Regions from separate parts of the Homo sapiens genome. Here regions 2 and 3 are each linked to region 1. Evidence: fine-mapped expression QTL. A gene starts in region 1. Each other region holds a variant in brackets. All regions are shown on one strand. Distances are between the middles of the regions. Region 1 holds the start of WDR86 (WD repeat domain 86). Region 2 holds the start of CRYGN (crystallin gamma N). Region 3 overlaps WDR86 (WD repeat domain 86).

Region 1 (6,420 bases):
CTGCTGCCATGAACAGAGCCAGAGGTCTCTAGAGGAAAAGCGTACGTAGGAGTCGCCAGCCCCAGCCACTCTGCTCGAGAAATCCAGGACCGGCCAACCACAGGCTCTTGTGGGCCCAGAGCTGTGCAAGGGCCAGGACGGAACCAAAGTGGAAAGAGATCTAGATTTAGAGTTAGGATGCTTCTAGGGATGGGGCCACCACAGACCAGCCATGTGGTCTGGACACAACTTCCCCCACAGTGGTAAGAGAAGCACCGTACAGTCTTCAGAAACCCTCTCTGCCATGGACCAGCTGCGGGACCCTGGACAAGTCCTGCCACCGCACCACGCCTCGAGGGATGTTGGCGACAGCACCCACCCCATTATCGATGGTATCTAGAAAACAACAAGAATGCCGTGTATGCTGCTCATGAGTCTGCACCTCCCCACTCTCCTCTGTGAACTGGTGTCAATCCCACCCACCTCAGAGTTGTGAGGATTCATTACACAATAAAAAAGCACAAAGATGTGTTATTTATAAAATATAGGGCACTAAACAAATGTTAAGACATTTTAATAATATTTCACTGATAGAAAAAAAAAATCCTGCAGGAGAAAGGAACTGGCAACACCTTGCTTTCTTTGGGGATCCACACAAAAGGACTGTCACACACTCACAATGACTCTTTTGCAAGTTGAGCGTATCAGTAGAATCTCAGGATAAAGAAAGATGACCTCTGTCCCCGTCCTTGAAAATTCCTGAAAATACCAACCCATATAACAGCAAAAACAATCCTAGCAAAATGGGCCACAGTTCTTTCATTCCAGTGTCCTGCTTGAGCGGGGATAGCCCTGCCCTCAATTAGGGCAGAAGGTTGGGCACCCTCCCTGGGAAGTGAGTGTCAGTACCTCAAGGGGACAAGCAGCCGTGAGGGTCACCAAAGTGGGTGTGAAGGAAGGAGGCACAGGTGCCAGACACAGAGCTGGGCAGGAGGGTGGGCCCTGGAGGCTTGGTGAGGCTCCAGAGCTGCCGTGGGGGCAAAGCCAAGTGCCCACCAGGCTACCGGCAGCCTGGCAAAGCCTGGGGCCTCACTGGGGAGAAACCCCACCTAATTGTGGGCTAAGCTGGGCTCCCACAACCCGTCCCCAGCCCAGGGGCTCCCGGGGCCAGCTGTGCATAAGACCCACCCAAAAGCTTGTTAGAAATGCCAATTCTAGGCCGGGTGCAGTGGCTCACACTTGTAATCTCAGCACTTCGGGAGGCCAAGGCGGGTGGATCACCTGAGGTCGGGAGTTCAAGACCAGCCTGGCCAACATGATGAAGCCCCACGTCTAATAAAAATACAAAAAAATTAGCTGGGCGTGGTGGCGAGCACCTGTAATCCCAGCTATTCAGGAGGCCAAGGCAGGAGAATCGCTTGAACCCGGGAGGCGGAGGTTGCAGTGAGCCAAGATCGTGCCACTGCACTCCAGCCTGGGCAACAAGAGCGAAACTCCATCTCAAAAAACAACAACAAGAAGAAATGCCAGTTCTACAGCCCTATTCATGGAGGACTGCATCACTGGAGCCCAGGCCTGGGGATCTGCATTTCTGAAACACCACCCACCCCTCTACCCCCAAGACAGTCTTATGTTTGGGAGCAATACCAACTGGACTTAACATTTCTAAAAGACCTCATATTTTCCATTCCTGGTTGAATGCCTATAAGTGTGTGTGGCTGTTTGGGGGGGATGTGTGTTAGTTTGTGGCCACCTCTCCATTATCCACACCAACTCCCAAGTAACCGGTAATCCAAAAGTCATCCCTGTTGGGTTTGAAATATCTGCCCTAACTATGTAATATTTTTTTCTTTTCTTTTCTTTTTTTTTTTTTTTTAGACAGAGTCTGGCTCTGTCACCCAGGCTGGAGTGCAGTGGCACGATCTTGGCTCACTGCAACCTCTGCCTCCTGGGTTCAAGTGATTCTCCTGCCTCAGCCTCCCGAGTAGTTGGAATTACAGGCGCCCGCCACCACGCCCAGCTAATTTTTTGTATTTTTATTAGACACAGGGTTTCATCATGTTGGCCAGGCTGGTCTCAAACTCCTGACCTCTGGTGATCCACCCACCTTGGCCTCCCAAAGTGTTGGGATTACAAGTGTGAGCCACCGAGCCTGGTCAACTGTTCTTATTTAAAACCAGCAGTATCAGGATTAGCCAATATTGGGGCTAATATCCTACCTAAGTTGGAAGGCCTGGGCGAGGCCACAGAGAGTTCACTGATGATGGTGGAAAAGCCCGCGGTGATAAAGAACTACCCACAGCAGAAAGCCTCGCGGCTCATCCAGGGGACTACGTGTGCTACCTGGGCAGTAGGAGGGCCAGAGCTGAAAGGGACCTCACAGTGCATGGGACAGGCCCAGGGGAAGGTGCACCCGAGGCACACTGACCTCCTGAGTGAGTACAGGGCACAAATAGAAACCAACAGGCATGCAGGCAGGGTTTACAGCAATGAGAGGGCTCAGACTGCCATCTACCCCTCACTGGCTGTGCGACCTGGGCGAATTACTTAACTCCCAGCCTGTTTCCACGTCTGTATGTGGGGTAACATAGTGTGACGACGGCACACTTCTCCGCACCGCTGGCCCTTAACAAGCGTCTACTGTTGCTGTGAGAGTCGTCAACAGGAAATGCCAGCAGAAGAGCACAATTGGCCACAAAGAGGCCACAAGGCACCTAGAGACAAGGGAAGGTTTGCTTAGAAGGAGTATAGGTGCAACTTTTTGTTTGTTAACATTGTTGTCAAGGGAGATTTCCTGCCGCTGGTTGACAAATGATCTTCGCCTTTGTAGCGGACGCCCCTCGACCCACCCACCCGATCCCGGCCGCACCCTGCTCTGCACCCGCACCCCACCCCCAGACCTCACCCTGCCCTGCCGTGCGCTCAACAGCCAGATGCTGGGCCCAGACAAGCGCTCTTCCGCTAGTGTGCCGGGATGAGCGGGGGCTGGACTTCTAGAAAGGGGTCTGCGGGCGCAGGAGCTGGGGTCCGCGGTCTGGGGCCGGTGAGCTGCGGCGAAGAGGTCAGGGAGGGAGTGGGAGGGTCTACCTTGCAGGAGCGCGCAGCACTGGCCGTCCGCGGTGCTCCAGAGCCGGGCCGTGCCGTCCTCGCTGCCCGTCAGCAGGCGCTGCCCGTCGGGGCTCAGGCTCAGCCAGTTGATGCCCCCGCGGTGGTCGGCGCAGACCCTCAGGGCCGACCCGCCGCCCCCCATCCCGCTGGCAGGGCGGGGAACAAGAAGGAGCTGCGCCCCGCTAGGGAGGGGCGCCCCGGGGTCCGCGCGGCGGCTCCGTACGACTGCGGCCCGCGGCCATCGCGGGGAACGGGGAGCCCGACTCCTGCGGAGGCACGCGGCGAGGGGAGGGTGAAGGACCCTAGCTCCCCGCTGCCTCCAGCCTCTGGGCCCGCGAACCCAGGGCGCTGCGGGGGGCGGCCCACTCGGGACCTCCGCCCTGGGTAGAGTCCTGGGCGCGCGGGCAGAGAGAACCCCCTTCCCAGCACCGCTCGGAGGATCCACACCCCACCGGGCGAACAAGGCAGCTGCGTCTCTGGTGCACAAGGAGCCCCCCGCCTCCTCTCGCGCCCACGGGGCTGGGGCGGGGAGAGGAACACGGGAAGCCGAGCGCCCCGCGCCCTCCCCGGCCGAGCGCGGAACAATACGGTCCAGCCTGGCTCCTCCTCAGAGACCACCCCTCACCCGATCCCCTCCCACTTCTCGGGCTGCGCCCCAGCCCCCACCCCGCGCGCCTGCAGCCTCCCCCCTTCGTCGCTGTGCGGGTCCGGGGGACGGCTCCACGTGCGACCCTCCTAGCTGCCCGGGCTGCGCCTCTGGGCTCTGGCCTCTGCCACCTCCGCCGCCGCCGCCTGGGTCCCCTGAGCCAAGGGCCGGGACGAGGGAGGGGGAGGCGGACAAAGGGTCGGGGTCGGGGAGAATCGCGCGCCGGGAACTCATTTGGGGCGCAGCTCCACCGACCCCTCGGCTACTCGCCTCCACCAGGCAAGCCAGGTCCTCCCATGCTCTGAGCCCTAAGGACTCTGCCCGAGGGGCTCTCGGGGACTTGGGGGCGGTCCCCCAATGGAGGGTGCGACAGGGAAAGCCCCGAGTCCGCCCTCCCTGGGAAATCACGCGCACACCCAGGATTCTACTTTGGTCTGGCCGGAGTGGGGATGAGGTGCGAGCCGCTGCGGGGTCGGTGGAGCCGGGATGTCAAGTTCACCTTCCAGCCGCCGCGGGCTCCCTCGGCCTGGGGCGCCTCTAATGGACCCCGGGGTCGGCCTGAGCCCTCCCGGAGCGCCCGGCGGCTGGTTTCCATTAGGGCAGTTCCGGCGCCGACTTCGCTGGGGACGGGGAAGGTGACCCCCCTACTCGGATCCCCCAGGTCCTAAAGGTAGCAGGATTTCCAGAACGCTCCAGGGCTCTCTCAGGAGCCTAGGGAGAAGGGCAAGGAAGGGGCGTCTTTGGCGAGCTAGCCCGCAATGGGACGACCAGTACTGCACGCTCTGCTCTATCCAGACTCCAAAAGAAAACCCCATCGTGGGGTGTCCCAGGCCGTTGGGTCGTTTATACCCAGAGTGGCCTAACCAGAGAAATCCGTTCTTTTCCCTCAAAACTTGTAAAGCAGCTGGCGCCTCAGCTTAAGGAGCGTGGCCCTTCCTTAGCAGGTGGTGGAGAGAGGGGCAGTGGAGGAGCGTTAGGACGAGATTTGGGGTCATCCAGCCGGAGAGAGGGAGGCCGAAAGGAGAGACGTTTTCAGGAGGTGGAGGCTTCAGCATTTGGATGCCTGCGAGGCGGGAGAGGCCGGGGAGCCTGTCTTGTGCTGAGAGGCTGGGTAGACTGTTTTGTCCCCTACAGGCTGATCACCAGTTCCTCTTAGGAACCGGTGAACCTCAGGGGGCCCATTGCACATCCAGGTGTGAAACTGCGGTGTGGCCTCCAGGTGAGGACAGACTCGGTATAGTGGGGATCTTGGGCAGGCCCTGCGGCTGCAGCCCTTGGGGAAGGTGAATGTGAGGACCATGGAGGCTGGGAGGGTTTATCCGGAGAAGTGCCAGAGGAAACCCAAACTTTCTGGGCAGAGGGGCCAAGGAGAACCAGGCATCGACTCTTTTGGAAACTAAGAGGGGAGGGGTTTGAAAGCAGTTTGGGAGCTGGGGACAGATCGTAGGTTGGGCGAGCTTGCCTGGTCGTGGGCCAGAGGAAAGAACCACCAGGAGAAAAGCTTAACTTTCAAGGAGGTCACCCAGGATTCCTGAGCAAGGTGGCACCCATGCACTCTGGTTCCTCTCCTCTGCAGCCAACACAAGCCATCAGCCCCATGCTCAGCTCCCAGCAGGCAGAGCGTTCAGAAGCGCCAGCGCCATCATCTTGGGAGCCTGCAGTCCACACACCGCTGACCTTACCTACTTCCTCTTTCCAGGTTGATAGATTTTTTGTTCTTGGCTTCTCCACCTCCCCCACCCCTCCTTCTCCGGTTTGGCACAAAGTGGCCCCCTGGTGGGGATGAGCCAGCCATCTCTGGGGGTTGAGTCTGGACTGTAGAGCTGTGGGTGCAGATGTCCTCAGCCAGCCTGTCTTCCCTTTTCTCTTGCAGGTCGTAGATTACAGACTCTCCTCTGGGAAATTGCCCCCAGATCTAACAGGAGTACAAGAAGCTGGGTAGATTGGAAAACAGCACCGAATTCCCCTGGAACTGAGGTCTCCCCTAATTCCCCTGAAACTGGGGTCTCCCCCAACCTCCACCTTAAGATAGCAAAGCTATAGAGACCCAGGAGTCAGGCTGGGTCCCCAGCAGAACCTGGGCTCCCTTCCCCTTTCACACCTTTAACTCTTCTGGAGCCTCCAAGAGGGCCTGGAGTCCCGTGGTGCCCAGGCCCTCCTGGACCTAATCACTTTATAAATGGAAGGCACCTTGGGAAGGGAACCTGGTAGGGTGTAGGAGGAAATGGTTAAGCTTTAAGAAGCAAGAAATGGGCAGTGTTTAACAAGTGAAGGGTTGGGGGGCGGGTGCATTTTGTGCCAGGGAGTGCTCATTCCCCGTGCCACAGGGACTGCCACAATTTACCCTGCTGGAAAGAGTGACCCTCTGGGGCCTCTCTGAGAAGCATGGTGAAAGCTGGATATTCCTGAGTTGTGTGTGTGTGTGTGTGTGTAGGTGGTGACAGAGGGAGGCACCTTGAGGGGCGCCCACAGGGAACGTCATAGCCAGAGCTTTGTCAGAATTGCTTTTTCCCTTCTGGCACAACCTGCAATGCTGGTGGTGAGGGTGCCTGTGGTCATCATCTTCATAGTTTGGGTACTTACTGTGTGTCAGGTACTGTGCTAAGTGCTAGTATTTTTCAACAGGACGGAAGCCTTCCCAGTCCTGCAGCCACCTGCAGACTCTCACAAGCACGGTGCTCCCGGGA
Region 2 (6,420 bases), 29 kb after region 1:
GGACTGAGGCCTGGGAAAGCGGCTAGCTCTGGAACAGGGACAGACACAGGCTTGGCTGCAGTCTCAGCTGTGCCACTCCCACGGGGCGGCCGGGCAGTCAGCCTTCTGAGTCTCAGCTTGCCCTTTGTAGAACGGGGGCGATAATATCTACCTGACCTAGAGGTGTGGGCTGGACAATGAAAATACATGGCCAACTTGAAGGTGCTCAGAGGATAGTTGCAAAAGGGGAGTGTGCGGGAGGGCAGGAGGGGGCACACAGGCTGCCCTTGGTTGACCAGGAGGAAACCCAAGTGTGGGGCAGACAAACCCATCTGGGCCTGGGCAAAATTCCCCCAGCTACTTTCTGTCCAGGAGTGAGCCACCCCGAAGTCCATCTCCTCCCAGAGGCCAGGGTGGTGGGGGTTTGCAGAGAGGCCCGGTTCAGGGGTCAGCTCTGCGGGGTAGGCGCGGGGGCAGGGTGGGCTGGTCCACCCTTCTCAGAGCAAGTGAGCCCACTGTGGCTTTTCCAGCCCATAAGGCCCTGGAGGACCCCTTGGTAAGCAGGTGTCCCCCGGTTCAAGAAAACCAAAGGCGGCCCCTTGTATCAGATCAATCGCAGAGAACCGTGCAACTTTCAAGGTACTCTCCTACCTCTGCTCCTGGACTGAGGCCCTAGAGGGAAGGTCTCAGGGTGCCTCTGGGGCCCAGAGTCCCTCTCTGAGGCCCTTCTGGGCCACAGGGGAAGCTCCCCGCTGCTTGACTGGGGCAGGTGAGGCAGCTGAGGAAAGGAGAGGGCCTGTGGGGCCAGGGACACGCTGCCCACTGCTGGAGGTCTCATTCCCACCCCACCCACCACCCCTGTGTGGCGGGCAGCCTCCCACGCCTGGTGCTGAAGGGCCTAGCCGGGCCTCGGGGTGCGGCCACGTGGCCTGTACTCACGCTCCGTCCCCGTACACCTTGATGGTGTTCACACAGTTCTTGACCCAGCCCCTGCTCTGGAGGAAGGGGCTGTCCTCCAGGAACTCCAGGCACTGGCCCGTGAAGTTGCAACCCTCGAAGATTTCTAGGCGGAAATGTTCTCCGTGCTCCAAGACCAAGCAAAAAAGAAGGAAAGAAGGAGGTTGCTGTGAATTCCCCTCTCCCAGAAACAGAAGCCCCATGCAGGAAGGAATTAGGAGGTACCCAAGGCACTGGGCACCCCCACCCCACACACTTCAACCCCACACTTCTGTTTGTTCTTCCACATGAGATGTGGTTGGAAGAAAGGGTTCTATTACTCTGAAAATGTTCCAAGCCACTGAGCTGGTCCAAGCTCCTCTTTCTACAACTAGAAAATCTGAGGTCCAAAGAGGGCCAAACTGACCAGAGGCCAGCGGTCACACTCAGACCAGGGCTGGGGTCACGGGGCTCCCTCTGGGTGCTCAGCGTGGGGGACTCCGGCCCTGATCACAGCCACACACTCCGGGTTCTGACTTCCCCACCCCTGGGCCACAGCCCATGGGCAAGCCTTCAAATGATAACATTTTAAAACTGTAATAGAACCTTTTAGTAAAACATAAAGCCAAAAATCTAAAACAAATACCAGATCTCATGTGCTGAAACCCCTGCTGGCCTTGACATCATTGTCCCCTAGGCTCAGCACATCTCCCTATATGATTCCCGCATTTCCAAAAGACAGAGGAGGGCCAGCCCCTGCCTGGCTCAGAAGCCGGCAGGGCCTGGTCTGCGTCACAGCTGGCCCCAGGCTAGCTCTTAGGAGAACAGCAGTTCGCAAGATACCAAGGATGTTTTTCATATAAATAGCATTATGCAGGGTCCAGGGCCAACCATTTAAATTTCTTTTTTCCAAATGGACCACAGCCTGGAAGAAATACTAAGGAAGCATTCTTACAATTTGAGATGCCAAAGCCCAGCTGGTTTTGCAACTGATACAGAAAAGAGAGGGGGCACCACACAAAGGCCCCTTTACTGGGGTTCCTCAGATGTTCACCAGAACCACCCAGCCCAGGCGTCGGGGGAGGGTCCTCAGCAGACATAAGCGAGACGCTCTGTGATGAGAGATGCACGCCCCCAGGCTCAGGAGTCCGCCACTCCCCACCTGAAGCTCCAGAGCTCACAGCAGGTCAGTGAGTACCCATGACCTGGGGGAACGGCCTTGCTTAAATCCCACCCTAGGAGCAGCTGGACCGAAACAGTCTTTCGCCACCGGGGAGCCATGCCCCTCGTCTGCCCTCCCTGCACACACCTCTTGGGCGGCAGCTACCTGTGTAATTCCAAGGGACCTGCCCCCCAATTTTCCCCTGACAGGCGGGTGATTCTTCAGCTTCCTCCATCAGCCATTCCAAGACATGGAAGGCTCCAGAATGTGCCACAAGACCACCTGTACTAGTGGCCACACTAGGCCCAAATCAGCCTCCCATTGGCGGAGTGTCCCCTATCTGGCTGGAAATCTAAATTTGGATGATTTCAACAGCATTTTAAATGGAAAATGCAGCTAGATTTTTGGCTCCGAAACTTAAAGTGGTTTATTGATACCTGTATGAAAACTCAGGGCCACTCCCACTCAGTTCATAGCAACTTGGCCCCCCACCTACTCACCTCATGCCAGCAGGTGGCTCTGGGTATAGCTCCTTCAGTCTTACAGACTTTAAAGCCGGGAGGACCACGCTCCCCGATTCCTTGCCACTGTCTGCCAGGGCTGACCCTCGGTCCCTCCAGCAGGAAGACTCAGCCTTCGGTGGACGGGCCCACTCACCATTCCTACAGGCCGACAGGAGCCCATGTGGTCACTGTGGCTGTTCCAGCGGAAGAAGTCGGGGTAGTCGCCGTGCTCCAAGATGAACTGCTGGCCCCGGAAGTCGGGGTGATTGAAGCAGACCCAGGCTCCGCTCTCCACGTGGATGGAGTTCACTCGGTTCATAAAGCCCCGGTCCTGGAAGTTGTCACAGTCCCCGAAGACCTCCAGCTTCTGCCCTGTGAAGTGCTTGCCTTCATAGAGAGTGATCTAGAAAGGGCAGGTTACAGAGCTCAGGGTCAGGGGCTTCTCTCCGTCAGCGTTGGAGGCTGGCGTCTGGGTCCCAACACCCTGGATGGAACCCCTACTCCCAGGCCCCCAAAAGCCCAGACCTGCTGCACACAGTAGGTGCCCAACACTATTTGCCAATTGGGCAAAAGAACGAACAGCTGGCAGGCTGATGCCATACACAGCTACTGTTCCTCCCCACCCTTAGGAGCTCACAGTGGGGCAGACAAATTTCAGCAGCGATTTGGGGACAGGGGTTTCCCCTTTGTCTAGGTGCCCATTTCAAAATGGGCTGTTTTCAACTTCCACTGCATTTTTAACTCATTTTTTAATTATTAAAACATAAAGCCGATAATAACATTAAAGGAGGTGTTTTCAAAAGAAGAAATTTCACCCACAACCCTCTCATGGTAACCCAGCATATATTTTGCAGAAATTCGGGTTCCTGGGATTGGGCCTCCTTCACTGGAGAGGCTGAAT[G/C]GGCCGAAGCCGCGTCAGGGCCTGGCTCGGGATTAATGTTCGCAAAAGAGGGCTTATAAGTGCCACCCTGTCTCTCTGTGTTTTGTAGGTCACTCCTTTGGGTAGCAGGCATGTATCAGATCTGGAGCTCCATCACCCTGCTGGGAGTTCAGACATCGTGTCTTATAGCTACGTGGCACTCACAGGTTGTCCTTGTCCCGAAACAAAACAAAGTGAAGCAATAACAACCCGCCAGACTCATTTCCTGCTGTGGAACCTAAAATCTCAACCATTTAGTAACTCTTTGGGTTTCAAGAACTGTGGCCCTAGAAGGGTCCTGCCAGAGTGCAGTGATGTTCCCCATCACTATGGTCGCTTGTGCCTCACCAGTGTCTCCAGTTCGCTCAAAAGAACACGAGAATTGCCCTTCCAGGCCCCTTGGAGTCAGGCGTGGCCACATGCGTTCACCGGAAAGGAGGCAGACACCTTGGCGTTCTGCACCCCAGAGTTACTGGGGCCCTTTGTTACTGAAGCATCACCTGGCCCATGCAGACTGATACAGCAACACAGTCACCCCCAGACACTCTGGAATGTGGCCTTGGAGACCAAAGGCTTCATGGGAGTGGCTAGGCTAGGGGCACTGGAGAGGGCGAGGGAGAGCCAGGTCTCCCGTCCTTCCTGCACCAGGCACGGCTGGTAGAGGGCCCCTGAAACCTTCAGGGAGGTCTGGGCACCAAAGGGATTCGGGGCTCCCTCAAATCTCAACATTTTTCAGAGAACCAGCCCTAAGTGTCCCTGAAGAGACCCTGGGAAGGAAAAGCCATAGAGGCCAGCCTTGGGCAAAGAAGCCGCAGCAGTGGGGCGGAGGGCTGTGGGACAAGCCAAGCCTCCCCCACCCCAAGGAAGCCCCAGGGAGTCTGAACACCCTCCCTGCTCCTGACTGCAGGGCGAGGGGTTGGAATCCCAGAAGGAAGGAGTGGAGATGGAGACCTTCCTATCCATCCACACCAGAGAGGCCCCAGGCCAGTAGCGAGGCCACCCCATTTTATTAAGAAATTAAACCAGCTTCCCTTGGATTTGTCACCATCAACAGTGTGCACCCTCCTGCATCCCCTAGCACAGGGGGCGAAGGCGGAGCCCCACTCGGTTTCCTTGGGGTTGAGGGACGCACTCACCTTCCCCGAGCGCTGCGCCATGGTGCGCCCCGCCCCTTCCGCGGGTCCCCGTTTACACCGGGCAGCGCCCTGCTGGCTCAGCGCCGCCCCGGACAAAAGATTTGCTGGGCCGGCCCCGGAGCGTTAGTGCTGTCGGGCGTGCTAAGCCCGAGGGGCCACCAGGCGGTTGGGACCCGCCGCGGCCACCCTGTGCCACCGCGAGTGCAGCCCGCCCTGCCCGGGGTCTCCCTGTGCTCTCCGCGTTTAGCTCCCGAGCCTCCTTCCTCCCTGAGCCCTCCCGCCCAGCCCGCGGCTGCCCCTGCCCTGCCCTGGAGTGGTGGGGGGAGGAGGGGAGGTGTCTCTCTAGCCCTCCAACCTTTCTTCCCCTGCGCTGCCCCTCAGCCCTCACGCCCATCTCCCTCCCTCCCAAGGCCTGTTCCGAGCTCCCCAGCCCACTCCCCTTTCTCACCTGGCTGCAGGTAGTCTCGCCTTGGTGCCAACTTGTTTGTCTCCACGAGGATGCAACCCAAGCTTCCCCGGACAGACAGACAGCCCTTGACCGCCCCTCCCCTGGCTGCTCTGGTCTGAGCTCCCAGGTCCCCACCTTAGACCTCCGGCTCCAACTCACCCAGCTCCTGATGCACCCCCCCACACCCCACAAAACGCCAGGCCAGGTCAGGCCTCCCTCCTCCCGCTCTCTTCCTGCCTGCCTCCCTCCCTGGCACTCTCCCTCCCTGGGTCCCTCTCTCCTTGAAGATCCTGCCTAGGGTGACCAGGTGACCCGCGCTGCCCTGAGCTGGGGGTACAGTGCTCTGCCCCTTGCCTCTCTGCTGCACCAACTAAGCCACCCTGGACGCCCAGGATCAGTTTACAGCACAAAGCAGCCCCACCGCGGAGGGAGAGTTCCCCAGGGCCCAGAACGAGCACTTGGCAGACAGCAGAGGCTCAGAGATTGTGGAGTGAGCAGAGCGAACATGGAGCCCACAGGATGTGCAGCCCCCACACGGCTGGGGAGATGAGCTGGGAACACAGGACTCATGACTCAGATGGCTGGGGTGGTGGGGGACAGGCTCTGAGATCAAAGGAGAGAGGGGCAGGTGCTCCACAGGGGCTTCTGCTGGAGGGGAGGGAGGAGCTTTGGGGAGGAGTTTGGGCTGCTCTTCCTTCAAACAGTATATTTTTATGACCATTTCACAGATGAGACACTGAGGCCCAGGAAGAGGAGGTTATGTGATTCTTGGGGCAGAGGGGTGACCTTGCCTCTGCTGTGGGAGGTTTTCAAAAGTAGACAGGGTACAAACCAGAACCTGCATGTCACCCTTGAACCCAGGGACGGTCCTCCCTAGGGACGCCCCTCCCTAGGGACGCCGCCCAGCTGCCTCCACTGGCGCCCTTACTTGCCAAGCCACACATTCCAATGTTTCTCTCTGGACCTGGGCCCTGGTGGGGACATAAAATTAAAAACAAAATCTCCAGCCAACCCAGAAAACTTCTCCACGAAGGTAGAAGGAAAAAAAAACAATTTTATTATTGAATAAACTTTAAACTGGAATGCGATCTGCATCACGATCTCTCCCCTAAGAGATCGCAAAGATGGAGAGAGATCTCACTCTTCTGTAGCCAAGCAGACACAACCCACTGCATTCATGTTTTCAGGATAAAATTGCTGATTTTCTTGTATCTCTATGACTGGAGGTGGGTTTTGCAATTTGGAGTCAGGTGACAGCTGAAGTCAGGCTTCTTAGGAAACGGGGAGGGTGGGGGCACTTACTCCTTGATGTCAAGACTCAAAGAGGCTCCCAGAGG
Region 3 (6,420 bases), 27 kb before region 1:
GGGCATGGGCGTGTAGCAGGCAGGTGAGGGCAGCCCATGCCAGCACAATGGTGTGCACAACTGGTCAGGTGTCCTTGATGCTGATCACGGCCTTACCCTGTCCTTGTGTTCCTGCCCATATGTCCTATGGGTAGCTCCTGTCCTTCCTCCCTTAGCCAACTCCTCCTCAGTCAATTTATCAAAAGCAGACACCTTGTTTCTTCATTCATAGCAAGGCGACAGTGGTGTGGCTGGAAGGGAACCAGGCCTGGGTTCAGGGGATCAGACTCTCTCACTCACCGTGTCTCTCAGGCTGTCAGAAACCAGAGCGAAAATGGACATCTGGCCATCTTTATGTCCTCAACATCTCGCAAAGCTCTCTGTGCAATGGAAGTAGAAATTACCCCAATGTGTGTTGCTATAAAAATGCAAAGTGAGTGCAGCGCCCGTGTTTTGGGTCCATGCCCCACTGGGTTTCTCTGGATGGCTTGATGCATGCTCCATTCTCTGCTGTGGGGAGATAAGGTGGGGACTGGAGCTGACGTGTCAGTGAGGGGCTGCTCAGGCCAGAGCGCAGCATCACCAAGCAGCAGTGTCTTCGGCAAGCAGGAGTCAGTGTGAACGTCTGTGCAGGCTCAGGGCCGGCCGGCAGCACTGCCCGCAGGCAGCACTCAAGGCGGTTCTCTGGCCTGCGCCACCGGAACCGTCCCTTCAGCACGATGGAAAGGTCCTCTCTGGTAGGTATGCCCCTTGTGGCAGCCACAGGCCCCAATGGCTCCGGGACGCAGCAAGACCTGGCCACCCCCGAGGTCTGTGTGTGCTTAAGTCTCACCCGGAGAACAGTGCATGGTGCCGTTTCTGCGGGTTCTCCTGCACCGATCTGCTTGCCTCCCAACAGGCCCATTTTCCTGGGGTGGGGGTCGGGGGCACTTTGGTTCCCAGGGTTTGGAGGTTTGGCCTAGAGGAGTTACAGCGCCTGCGTCCTTTCCTTCCTACTGCCCACAGTGCAATCCCTACCTGTTCATCCGCGCCCGAGGGCGGACCCGCCCATCACCTAGCAGGTGATCCCTGGCGGCCCCGGCCGTCTCTGATGAAGTATCTTCTGCATTAAGACTATGAAGCGCATGCTGCTCTACCTGAAAGGGCTGCTCCACTTGAAGGGGCTGCTCCACTTGAAGGGGCTGCTCCTGCAGCAGGTGCTTCTCTCTGCAGCGAGATGATGAGCTCTCCACGGCAGACACTGTCACCTGCAGCTTCTCTCCTGGCACCCGGGCCAACCGGGGCACATGGATGCAGAAAGTGGCACCATCAAGGGACTGAAGAGCACCCCGCTCAGGTGCTGTGAGGGGTGCTGAGGGGTCTCCTGCAGGGCCCCTCGGCAGACTGAGCCCCACTGGCCCCTCGAGCCCCTGGGCACAGGGCTCCCCTTGGGTGCCCGGTGGCTCTGGCATGTGTGTTGCGCCTTCCAGCACCAGGCGCTGCCCTGGCTCCTGTGCACGAGCCCGGGGTGGGGCTGCTGCCCGCCCCCACCCCTCCTTCCACTCCAGGCCCTGAACGGACTTCCTAGATTCATGCCAGAAAATGACATGCCAGAAAATGACCCTGCTCCCAAGCAGGGTCCCCGCTGTCACCTGCACAGGCTAAAGAGCTCCTCCCTTGCTCCCCGGCCTCTTCCCCATCCACTTCCTGCACCAGTGACACTGGGGGCAGCCCCGCAGCGCACCCACAAGTCACCCCCAAGGCTGCCCAGGCCGGTTGTGAGAGGCAGAGGGCAGGAGGCCCGCCGCCCTGGGTTCCTGGAATCCCAAGCTCCAAAAAGAAGCTGAGACTCAGTTTGCAAAACAAAAAGAGGACACAGGAGCACTTTTAACGTTCAGGCTGTATATTTCAGTTCCCCCCAAGGCCCTCGAGACGGACGATTTGCCAAAATAACCAGGTTCAGTGGCTTCTGTAAAAAGTCACTTCCTCTCAGCAGGAAAGGCCCAGTTTCGTGGGGCTGGGGGAGCTGGGGCAGTCCGCCTGCAGCCCCTGAGGTGGGAGGGTCCCCAGGACTAGGCCTTTCGCCAGGTCAGGGATGGGGAGGGAGGACAGGAGCCACCCTAAAAGGGAAAAGGGGGCGGTCCCCAGGGCGAGCACTCCCGCTCCCAGCGCCTCCTGGCCACCAAAGAAAAACCAGACGCCTGCGACGGGCTCTCCTCCCGCCCGGGCTTCCTCGCTCCTCGCCCCTCGCCGGCCATCGGGCGCCACCACCGCGGGTAGCAGGGCGGGGCGCTCTGGGAGCCGCTGGGTGTCTGGGCTGGCGTCTGCAGGGGCCCCGCGGGATCAGGCCGGCTGCAGGGGCGCGGCGGCGCAGCCCACCTTGTTGCTGAAGAGCCGCGAGAGGCTGCGCATGGGCGGAGGGGGCCGCGGGGCACCTCGGAGCCCGCGCACGTCCCAGAGGCGCAGGGCGCCGTCGTGCGAGGCGGTGTAGAGCACCTGGCCGTGCACCTGCGGGCGCAGGGGCGGGCGTCACCGGTGACGCGGTAGGCGGGGGGGACACCGCTGCCCGCGTGGATGGATCGGGGCGGGGCACCTTCCCTCCCACGGGCGGCGGCCCCGAGAAGGGCAGAGGGACCTACCTGGATGCAGTTGATGATGAATGTGTGGCCCCGGAACACCCTCCGCAGCTCTCCAGACTGCGCGTCGAAGGCCCGGGCGCAAGCGTCCCCGCTGCCCGTGAACACTGCGGACACACAGCGCGCGCTGGGCCTCCCTCCCTGCTCGGCCCCCCGCAAGCAGGGATGGGGCGGCGAGAGCGTGACCTGGGGCGTCTCCGAGACTCCGCCCCACGGGGGTATCCTGAGGCTCATATGGGAAGTGGACAGTGCCCCTCCAGAGAAACGGGTCCCCACGGTTATTCTGCTCCACCCTGCAGATGCCTGCGCGCCAGCTGGCCCTGCCCCTGCCCTGCTGAACACCGCCCGGGCCCAGTCCCCACTCCGCGGTTTGGTGAAGTTGGTTTCCGTGCCTGCTTGGGAAGCCCCTGCCTGGGGATAATCGTCAGGTCCTCGAGTCGCTTCCCCCCTACCTTCCGCTGCGTCGGCAACCTTATCCTCCCGTCCTCATTAACGGATCGGCACTCAAATCAAAGCCCAGCCCTCTGGGGTTCATGATCACGCACCCCCGGGACCCCTAGCGGGGGCGAGCCTCCGACCTCAGTCTGTCTCCTCCCCCAGGTGGCTGCCTCTCCCTGGGGTTTCTCCTAAGATTTCAGTCCAATCGTTTTCCAACTGCAACCTGCATTTGCATCCGTCACTTGGAGGTCTTAGCCACAGATCGCGGGGCCGCATCCCAGAATCTGATTTAGCAGGCGGGGCCTGAGAATCGGCATTTCTAACCAGTTTTAAGTGATGCTGCTGCTAGTCAGGAGGCCACACTGAGGATGTGGACTAGAAGAACTCACTTGGCCTAGGCTGGGCTCTCCGAAGCCGACCCTGATGCTAGGACTTGATGCAGACAGTTCACCTGGCAGGCGTCCCAGGAAACGCTCACAGGGAAATGGGAGATGGAAAGGGAGGGAGGAAGTCCTGTGGGGTCTGTCAATGAGCAGGTAACTACGGTGGGCAGCTATGGTGCAAGCCTGCCAGGGACCTTGGGGAAAAGGGGTAGGACCACCTGAGGGTAAGGGTGCTGGGCTACCTATCTATCTGAGGGTGCTCTGTGGGTACTTGTTCCCCAGCCTTTTTTTTTTTTTTTCTTACAGGGAGACAGGGTCTCACTCTGTTGCCGAGGCTGGAGTGCAGTGGTACCATCTTAGCTCACTGTTAACCTTGAACTCCTGGGCTCAAACGATCCTCCCGCTTCAGCCTCCTGAGCAGCTGGGACCACAGGCATGCACCACTACACCCAGCTAATTTTAAAAAAAACGGGGCGGCGGGG[T/TG]GGGGGGGGGGAGCTGGGCACAGTGGCTCACGCCTGTAATCTCAGCACTTTGGGAAGCTGAAGCTGGCAGAGCAGATCATGAGATCAGGGGTTTGAGACCAGCCTGGCCAACATGGTGAAACCCTGTCTCTACTAAAAATACAAAAATTAGCTGGGTGTGGTGGCACACACCTGTAGTCCCAGTTACTTAGGAGGCTGAGGCAGGAGAATCACTTGAATCTGGGAAGTGGAGGTGGCAGTGAGCCTAGACTGCGCCATTTCACTCCAGCCTGGGCCACAGAGCAAGACTCCGTCTCAAAAAAAAAAAAAAAAAAATGTTTGTAGAGACAGGGTCTTGCTATGTTGCTCAGGCTGGTCTTGAACTACTGAGCTCAAGAGATCCTCCCGCCTTGGCTTCCCAAAGTGCTGGGATTACAGGCATGAGCCACGGTGCCCAGCCTGTTCCAGCCTTTTTGTTAAAACTACAGAGTGAATGGCCCCAGAGGGGAAGTTTCATTTCTGGGTCTCTTTTCAGCCCCTTTCTGCCTTCCCCCCACAAACTCAGACAAATGGACATGGCCTGGAAAACCCAGTGTGGCTGCTGAGCTCCCCGCGGGTGGGAAGAGGATCAAAAACAAAGTCTGATCATCCCATAGCCTTGCTGGCCAAGACCAAGAACCGAGCTGGGCAACAGTGAGCTGCAGGCTTCGCTTTCCCTGCGGGCTCCATGCCCCGGCTGCACGGGGAGGTGTTCTAGGCGGCCGCCGGCCAGAGCCTTTGAGAGTGGAACCTTCCTCGTGTTCAATTAGAGGACCCAGACTTGGGAACAGAGCCGTAACCACACTTCCAGCCTTGGACACAGGAACAAACGAAAAATAATTTTTCTGTGTCAGACACCTGAATCCTGAGGGCATGTCAGGATCTATTTTCAGATATCTACATTCTGTCTTCATCCAACACCTTTGCTGTGAGGTCAACTTGAATATTCCACTGTGACTCTTCCCCAACCCAGTCTCCTCCCTCCCAGAGGCAGAGCCAAATGGCCCGAGAGTGTGACAAGTTGAGACCTGTAGGACAGACAGCAGGTTGCCTGCCCAACAAGCGATTCTGCCCTTCTTTCTTTCCAAAATAACCCTGATTCCATCTGGGCAGCAAATTCCTCAGATAAAAGACTTTATGATTCTCTATCTCTTGCAGACAGAATGGTCACAGAGAGGTATGTAGAAGCCCTTGGATGAAGCTTCCAGGAAAGATCTTAAAGGACCAACTCAGCTAGAAGACGCGTCCTTTCGCCCTTCATCCTCTCTCTCTGCCTGCCTAAAACATGACACGATGGCTGGCACTGTAGCAGCTATCTTGAATCATGAGGCTTCTTTAAAGATAGAAGGTCTGTGCTAAGGATGACGAAGAAGAGTGACAGAAGAAAGCTGGGTGCCTGATGACTTTGTGGAGCCACCCATTCCAGCCGAGACCACCAGCCTCTGAAATTCTTCTACCTGAGAGAAAATAAACCACCACCTCATTGGAACCACAGCTACCTGGATTTTCTCTTCTCTGCAGACAAATCCTAAGGCCAAGTGAGGCCAAAGCCATGTGGCCCTCGAGGCTGGCAGGATTAAGGGGCAGTCACTGTCTCACTTGGAGAATTAGGATACACCCTTTGGGACATGCTTTTGACCCTAGACCCTCCCAGCAGTCCAGTCTCCCAGGCTGTCCTGGAGAAAGGTTGGGAGGAGCCACCAAACCCTTATTTGCACCTTCTTTGCAAAACAGCTGGAAGCACGGGTGTGTGGAGAAGGAACGAGCACTGCCATTGGACGCTGATGATTGGCAGCCAAGGCTCAATGAGGGAAAATCCCATAGGAAGTAAAGAAGCAGAGAGGAGAAGCCAGGCTGGGGTGGCACAGGTCGTGCAGGGCCAAGTCACTTACAGGTGCCCGCGTGGTACTTGAGGGCGCTCACGTTGCGTCTGTGGGCCGTGAACGTGCGCACACACTCCCCTGTGTCTGCCAGCCAGCACTTGACGGTCCTGTCCGCGCTGCCAGAGTACACGAGTCGGTTCACCAGCTGCGAGGAGGAGCAGGGAAGGTCGGCAGCTGGGGCAGCTCTGAAGCCCCCCAGACCTCTCCCTCTATAAGGGGGGAAGGGGCATGTGCAGGTCTCAGTGGTGAAACCATGGGTGAGCCTCGAATGGCCCCGCCACCGGCCCCACCAGACTGCCCACTTCAGCACCCAAAAGCAGGCGGCTGCTCCTGCCCCATGGGGCAGCCAGTGCTCCAACAGGGCTGGCCGCCCAGCCCCACACTGCCCTGGGCCAGTCCCTGGCTCTCTGCCCCTCAGCTGCTTCCCCTGAGGATTAGGATGTGGACAGCCCCTTCCTCGAGGGTGTGTGTGGGGTACAGGCACTTAACTGCTCGCTCCTGCTGGCTGAGGAGAGGGCTTCCAGAGAAGGGCTTTCACATGGGGCTTTTGCTTCAGACAGGACAGAGAAAGCCCTGAGCGAGGGTGTGAGGCAGACTTCTGCCAAGACTGGAGCTGACAGCC

The links. PIP is the estimated chance that this variant, and not a neighbour inherited with it, causes the effect.
Region 2: its variant is fine-mapped to the expression of WDR86 in whole blood (INTERVAL, PIP 0.96).
Region 3: its variant is fine-mapped to the expression of WDR86 in whole blood (INTERVAL, PIP above 0.99).

The regions. Positions count from the first base shown.
Region 1 is chr7:151,406,361-151,412,780 of GRCh38, forward strand. WDR86 (WD repeat domain 86) reads right to left here and starts at 3,678. Exons shown (of 6, transcript NM_198285.3): 1 at 3,067-3,678. The coding sequence starts at 3,229. It overlaps WDR86-AS1 (WDR86 antisense RNA 1), which reads left to right and starts at 2,801. Exons shown (of 6, transcript NR_109857.1): 1 at 2,801-3,022; 2 at 4,868-4,952; 3 at 5,310-5,432; 4 at 5,607-5,710; 5 at 6,359-6,420. RefSeq lists an enhancer at 4,244-4,876.
Region 2 is chr7:151,435,262-151,441,681 of GRCh38, forward strand. CRYGN (crystallin gamma N) reads right to left here and starts at 4,880. Exons shown (of 4, transcript NM_144727.3): 1 at 4,636-4,880; 2 at 2,735-2,983; 3 at 919-1,064. The coding sequence starts at 4,656. It overlaps LOC124901780, which reads right to left and starts at 900. Exons shown (of 1, transcript XM_047421163.1): 1 at 1-900. RefSeq lists enhancers at 2,448-3,297, 3,659-4,159, 4,160-4,660, 5,372-5,908. The variant G/C (reference allele first, on the strand shown) is at 3,482.
Region 3 is chr7:151,379,281-151,385,700 of GRCh38, forward strand. It overlaps WDR86 (WD repeat domain 86), which reads right to left. Exons shown (of 6, transcript NM_198285.3): 4 at 5,808-5,943; 5 at 2,598-2,701; 6 at 1,844-2,466. The coding sequence ends at 2,302. Among named protein-coding and RNA genes, the nearest start is that of WDR86-AS1, 27 kb to the right of the region's middle. RefSeq lists silencers at 2,087-2,246, 2,267-2,506. The variant T/TG (reference allele first, on the strand shown) is at 3,898.